Homo sapiens: one gene and its partner. The protein of the gene in region 1 interacts with the protein of each later gene in a pairwise test. Each region holds a gene or a part of one and is shown on either strand. Other genes may lie near its edges.

Region 1 (3,827 bases):
TCCAGTGCTCAAAGAACAGTGTGGGCAGAGATCAAAGCAAGAGAGCCTATGGCGTGTTTGGAGACTAGATCACTTTGGCTATAGCACTCAGCTAGGTCTTGTCCACATAAACTTTTAAAATCCAGATCTCTATGTTAGAATTAATGCATTGGCTTTTCTGGACACAGTGCCAGTTTTTTTTTTAAGTACAGAATTTAAATATTTTTTAGTTTGTTCTTATTAATTTTATATCTTCTTTCCAACTTAGGAAATCTTGATTCTGCCAGCCAGTGTATTAGCCATTAGTACCAACTTGGTGTCACTTTTAAATGTAATAATCAAGACATACCTACTCTTGAAAACTTTAGTAAAATGTCTTGCTAAGATTATTATATTATTTTCTTTCTTTATCAAGGTTATTATGTTCAGTATAACCGTGTTATTGCATCTTGACATAAGCAATTAGATTGAACCATATGAAATTGCTAATATACAGCCATTTTGAATTACTAAAAAAATGGCAATGTCATATGGTTCAATCTAGTTGCTTATGTCAAAGTATAATAACATGGTTATACTGATCATAATAACCTTGGTAAAGAAAGAAAATTAGTTTGATTCCTCTATTATTAGGAAGCCACTTCTTCCCCTGACCACTGCTTCCTTTACCACTAACCATGGGTTTAAAAATTCTTTCTAGTGTTTATTAGGGATCACTTTGGGGCTTCCTGTGTTTTGTCCAGGAGGTTGGTAATCATGGAGAATGAAATAATTAAGTTGCTGTACGAGGGAGTGCATTTGAAGATATTCGAAAAAGTATTTGGCAAAATGAGTTTAGGAACTCATAATCAACAAATGGCCTATTTCCCTTTTTTTCTTAAATGTTCTATTAGTTTGTTATTTCTTGTTCATTGTCAAGTAACAAATTTTGAATCTCATTTTTTTCCAGTCGAACCTGATGGTAATCATACTAGTCCACAGAAACTGCGTATTTTGAATATTGTTTTTCTCTCAGCTACTTAAATTTCCCCATAGTGTACTACTATTACTGTGACACTTTATGTCATGCTTTGGTTTCTCATTTGTCTTCCTTCCACAAAGGCTTAGAGCTCTATTCAGCAGTTAAAATAATAGGCTCATGAAAAACTGAAAAGAAATAAATTATTACCCTTAAATGGAAGGGTAACAGTTTTTGAAAAAATCACTTTGGTGGTAGTTAGAGATTCTTGAAGACATATTTACATTTCTTTTCCTTCTTTAAAGTTAAAAACCAAAAACCCATAAATCTAAAACGTTATACATAAGAATACAAATAGCTTTTTAATGTTATACATTAATGAATTATAATTTTATTTTATATGCATATTTACTATTGATGATTTATATTTGGAAGCTTGTACGTAGTATATAGTTTAAAGCAGAACATAATTAATGGAGTTTTACAATATATAGGTGTGAAAGTTTTTAAAAGATCTGTCCCTGTCAACAATAAGCAGTTCATGTTTGGGACTCTTAAGTCTTTGAAATGTCTAGGCTTCCAGTTACCTCCTAATCATTCATTAGAACAAGCCAATAGATTTTTATATTTTTAAGTACGTTATTATAAAGTCAGTTGAAAAGTTGATCCTGTCTTATCTCCAGCAGAAATAATTTTCAAAATCAACTAAAACTAATGTTTTCATTTTTACTTCTGAAATCTTCTATCAGTCTTTTATCAGTCTTCTATCATAGAAATGAAATTTATATTCTTGATTTGTTTTCCCCAGATTCTTTTGTCTGGTTTTCCTACCTCTATCTTCCTCTTCTATAATCCCTTCAGTTTATTATAAGATATATTATAAAAAGAGCATAATTTTGATTCCAGATCTGCTCATAAGCCTTCTTCGTTGGCCTCAAATTCTCTACGATATAAATTCTTTGCTACTTTTTTATTTAGGTCCTCTATGATTAGGTTCTCAGTTCAAGTTTTCAGACCACCATTTTGTACTACAATCTTACAGGACACTGCATTACAGCCCCACATAGCCCCCCTCTCTCTTTCTAGTACAGAGCTGTGCATCTTCCATTGTTTGCTATAGTTTGTCCATTTTCTCTGCTTGGAATATTCTCCCCTGCTTTTTGTGTTTCAAAATTTTCCTTAACCTCCAGCCTAAATGTTGTTCATCACTTCAGTCTTTCTGGATAGCTTCAACCAGAGATGATTCTCCCTCTATGTTTACCTTTAGCTCTTTTGATGCAAACCACATCTGAAACTTACGGGAAGAATGAAAATACTGTGTGTGAAAGTGCCTACATTCCCTGCATATGATAAAGAGAAGCAAACATTTTTTTGTGGAAAAAAAAGTATCAATGTAGATTAATATGGCATAAAAAACAGTAAACCATTTAAATGGGGGGAAATGCAGTCCATTTTTGTCAAGAGATACTTGATAAAGAAATTTTAATAGAACAAAGTAATATGTATAGTCTTTTTAAGTATCTTACAATTATATTTGTTTTCTGCCTGTAAATATTTCCCCCTTGCTTTCAGGAACAAAATCTGATCTTGTTCATGGCTTTTTAAGCTCATGAGAAAGTATTAGTTTAGCTCCAGTGATAAAAATAGCCTTTTAGTCATAGAATGCATGATAATGGAACAGAGTAGGATTCAGTTTTGTTATCCAAGCTATGGACTTGATTTCAGACCTAGTAAAAATTTGAACAGAAGAAAAGTTCATTTGTAAAATGTGATATTAAAAAATTGAGTTTTTAACTTTTCAGAAGTATATGTGGAACATTATATTATAAAATGAATTCATAATATTGGATATTAAGTATATATTAATACTTTGTTTCTAGAACCTACCTTCTGGATCATCACGTGTTGGAGCCATTAAGCTTACCTACATTTCAAAGGTAGTCTTTATACATTGTCTTATACTCGTGTGAATTAAAATCCCTGTGAATGAGAGTATGAATAGAAGCAGCAGTTTCCTTTCCATGTCCTTTAACAGTGATGTTCAGATTCCTATCATACTGAAATGGTACCTGATTACTACGTTTAGGAAATTCTTTAAATCGATACAGTTATGAAGAATATGATTTTAACTTACAGGATGTGGCAAATTGCAAAAGTTAACATTAACTTTTATGATCAGGTATATGAACATCAGAAAGGGAGAAATCAGTGAAACAAATTCTATCTTGAGAAAGTCTGGAGATTTTTCTAAGTCTGTATTATGTTTATTTAGACTGTTTTCAACTTTTAAATCCCATTGTCTTTGATACTTTGTTTCTTAATGTTTTATTTTGAGGAAAATATGGACCATTTTCATGTTGAAAGGATGATTTTCCCCCTCTTTTCACTTTGTCTCTTTTCATTTCTGTTTTCTTATTTGTTTTTCTGGTAATTTTGCAATACTATTTTTTATTTTTTAAAATTTTGATTTTATGTTTGTCAGGTACATTTTTTTCTTATTTTCTTCTATTAATGTTTAGGGAACTAAGTGATGCTGAGGTGCTAACCCTATGGGTTTGTGTGTGTGTGTGTGTGTGTGTGTGTGCATGTGTGTTACATAAAAGTAATAAAAGTTTGTTGATTACTTATATATGAGATGCAAAAGGTAGCAACAGTATTATTAAATAATATGGGTACTGTTATGCATATACTGAGATCTGTTGGCAAAGGTAGATCACTTCAACAGAAGACCAATTTACAAATGTGCCTCTGTTTAGAAGATAGATGTTATATAAATAAAATACTTTATATTAGTATTACAGTAGAGGTATTCATTCTCATTGACCAAAAAGAAAAGAAAAGAGCCCTTGGACAATAAAGATTACACATTTAAAAGGAAACATTTTTCTGT
Region 2 (3,827 bases), on another chromosome or scaffold:
AAAAACAACAACAAAAAAACAATACCCCAAAAAACCCAGGTGGACATACAAACATTTCCTCAAGCCTTAGCTGATTGTTGGATGACTTATGGTTAAGTGTTCTGTGGGAACACTTTATCTAGGGGATGCAATGGATTGACCTGGTCCCCCAAAAGAGATATGTTGAAGTCTTCCCTGCTCCCAGTGCCTCAGAATGTGACCTTATTTGGAAATAGGGTCATTGCAGATGTAATTAGTTAAGATAAGGTCATACGTAAAATAGAGTGGCCCCTAAGCCAATAGGGCTGGTGTCCTTATAAGAGGATGGGCATATGAAGACGGAGATAGAAAGAACATGTGCAGACGGAGGCAGAGAGTGGAGCGAGAAGTTACCAAGTCAAGGAATGTGGAGGATCGCCAGCAACCCGCGGAGAATCGCCAGCAACCCGCAGAGGCCCAGCAGGAGGCCCAGGACAGATGCTCCCTCACAGCCCTGGAAGGAACCAGCCTGCCCACACCTTAGTTTCAAGCTTCCAGCCTTCAGAATCATGACAGAATAAATTTCTGTTGTTTCAGGCCTCCCAGGTTGTGGTGCTTTGTCATGGCAGCCCCAGGAAACAAACACAGCAGAGTAGCTGAATGGTGGCACGGGGAATTACAGAGAAAATGCTCGGCCAGGCCCCATGGCACAGGCCTATAATCCCAACACTTTGGGAGGCTGAGGTGGGAGGATCACTTGAGCTGAGGAGTTCAAGACCAGCCTGGTCAACATGGTGAAACCCTATTTCCACTAAAAATAAAAAAAAATTAGCTGGGCATGGTGGCTCAAGCCTATAATCCCAGCTACTTTGGAAGCTGAGGTGGGAGGATGGCTTGAGCCTGGGAGGCATAGATTGCAATAAGCAGAGATTGTGCCACTGCACTCCAGCCTGAGTGAGAGAGCAACATCGTATTTCAAAAAGCAAACAAACAAAAAAACCTCATTTGTGATTATAAGAACTGCGTCCCCTTCCAGGACAGGCATTGAGTGTGATCTGGTGGCTTCACATTTGTCATTGATAAAAACAGGCCAGGTGCAGTGGCTCACACCTGTAATCTCAACATTTGGAAGGCCAAGGTGGGAGGACTGCATGATTCCAGGAGTTCGAGGCCATTCCTGAGCAGCATAGTGAGATCCTGTCTCTACAAAAAACAAACAAACATAAAAACAAAAAACAAAGCCATGGTTAGCTTCATGTCTCAAAGTGTGGAGGACAAAATCTAAGGAAAAGGTAGAGGACATGGAGAAAGAAGAATCTGGAAAGTCCCCTGCAAATTTGAAAATTCAAGTGCAAACACAATCTATAGTAAGTAAGCCATATAGTAATCAAATGACTCAGCTTCTCCAGGCTTAAAAAGTGTGTGAATTCACTTAGCTCACAGAGAGTTTGGGGGGGCTCATGTCTCCAGCTTGTGTGCAATTGGCTGGGGTATAATTGGTGACTGACCTTTTCAGGCTGGGTGTCTGGTTTTCTTAAGTCAACATGTCTTGATTTCATAGAGCATAAAAGCCCCAAATTTGGGGCAGAGTCCAGATTTGAATAAGGTGACTCAGAAGCCTGCTGAAGCTTTACCTTGGAAATCCAGCAGAGCCCACTAGGCTCCGCCTTTAGTCAGGACTTACAGCAAAATAGAAAAAGAAAGCAAACCCCAAACAAGCAATAGGACATTGTCACACCTGGCTGAAAACCTTCATGAATTAGACAACTATTCTGTGAATTTCGTAAGCCTCTGAAAATTATTTACTTGAGAATTGAACTGGGGATAAACTGCAGTGGTTAAAATGTGTCAAATGAAAACATAAGGCTAAGATTTTCTAATGGTAAGGAAAATACTATTAAACATGAGGTTTAAAACTCATTCTCTGTAAATTTAGCCTTTGAAGCCCAGGTGCTCCAAAGCAGTTAGTTGTTAATGATAAGAGTAAAAACAGTCATAGTTAAAGTTCCAGAGTGTTTATGATATGCCAAACATGTGCTAAGTGCTTCTGTGGGCATGCAATGAACTCTTAAACAAATCGCAATGCGCATTTTGCCATCTTTATTTACAGATAGGGAAACTGAAGTGTAGAAAGGTTACATAACTTGTCCAAGGTTACGTCTGGGCTGAATTAGGGAGACCAAACAGGAGGTTCTTGTGATCTTTCAGGTAAGAGATGCCAGGAGGCCGAGCCAAGGTGGTGGAAATAAAGGTGGGTGCCAGGAAGAGGTCAGTTTCTATATTCAGGTGAGGCTAGCGGGATGTGCTGATGGTTTAGCTGCGGGGTGTGAGACACAGGTGCCTAAGGTTATTGTCTTGGGCAACTGGAGGAATGGAGTTGCCACTTATTGAGAGCTTGAAGAGGGTTGGAGATCTGGGTTTGGAGGATGTGATGATCAATTTTTTGTGTCAACTTGGCTGGGCCATGGGGTGCCCAGATATATGATTGAACACTATTCTTCATGTTTCTGTGAAGTTAGTCCTTGGACAAGGTTAACATTGAAAGCAGATTGCCCTCCATAGTGTGGGTGGGCCACACCCAGTCAGGTGAAGGCCAGACTGGAACCAGAAAAAACTGGTGTCTCCATCAGCTCAGGCTGCCACAACAAAATACCACAGACTTGCTGGATTAAGCCACAGAAATTAATTTTCTCACAATTCCGGAGGCTGGAAAGTCCAAGACCAAGGTTCTGGCTGCTTGGGTTCCTGGTGGAAATTCACCTGACGTCTTCTTTGCATGCAGGCAGAGGAAATCTTTCTCTCTTTCCCTTCTTTTTAGAGCACGAATCTCATTGTGAGGGCACCCACCCTCATGACCTCATTGAACCCTAATGACCTCCCAAATGTCCCGTCTCCAAATACTATCACATCGGGGCTTAGGGCTCCAACATAGGAATTTTGGGAGAATGCAAATGTTTAGTCCATAACATGCAGCTTCACCTGAGCAAGAAACTCTCTCCAACAGACTGTGTTTGACCTTTATTTCCAACATCAGCCCTTCTCAGCTCTATAGCAGGCTGCCTTCCAACTGAAACTGCAGTGTCCGTGATCCTGGGTCTCCAAACTGCTAGCCCACCCTGCAGAATTTCATTTTATAGATGGGCTCTTGCTATATTGCCCAGGCTGGTCTTGATCTCTCAGGCTCAAGTGATCCTCCCACCTCAGCTTCCTGAGTAGCTGGGACTACAGGCATGTGCCATCACACTTGGCTAATTTCTAAAAATGTTTTATAGAGATGGAGGTCCCACTATGTTGCCCAGCCTGGTCTTGAACTCCTGGGCTTAAGCAATCCTCCAACCTTGGCCTCCCAAGGCTGTTGGAATTACAGGTGTGAGCCACTGTGCCTGGCCCACCCTGCAGATTTTGGACTTGCCAGCCTTGAGAATCATGCAAGCCAATTCCTTAGAATAAATAGATCTCTTTCTATATAAATGCATATTCGATTGGCTCTGTTTCTCTGGAGAACTCTGACTGATACAGAGGATGAAGGGCAGAAGAGAGGAATTTTCTTTTGGACTTGTTCAGTTTGAGATGTCTGTGCCTACCCACCTGGGGATAACCATGGTTGCATATGTAAGTGCAGGGTTCAGGGAGGGACTGAACTGGAGAAGTCTGTTTGTGTCACCACCGCATGGAGATGGGATTAAAATATGGGATGGAGTCTCTTAGGAGGGAACGTTAGATAGAGAGGAGCAGGGGCTCCAGGGCTGATTCTAGGAACCCTCCAACATCAGGGGAGGGATGAGGATAGAGGTAGGAAGAGGAGCCAGCCACGGGCTGTAGGAATGGGCGATAGTGAACGGTCAACCCAGAGGAGACTGGTGAGGGAG

What was found.
Region 2: the proteins of PLEKHA1 (region 1) and CLDN14 interact in a two-hybrid assay, tested with the Homo sapiens proteins (one large-scale study listed by BioGRID and IntAct).

What each region holds. Positions count from the first base shown.
Region 1 is NC_000010.11:122,395,101-122,398,927, forward strand, and holds part of PLEKHA1 (pleckstrin homology domain-containing family A member 1), read left to right. Parts: intron 1-2,817; coding exon 2,818-2,874; intron 2,875-3,827. UniProt on the Homo sapiens protein: Binds specifically to phosphatidylinositol 3,4-diphosphate (PtdIns3,4P2), but not to other phosphoinositides. May recruit other proteins to the plasma membrane.
Region 2 is NC_000021.9:36,470,041-36,473,867, forward strand, and holds part of CLDN14 (claudin-14), read right to left. Parts: intron 1-3,827.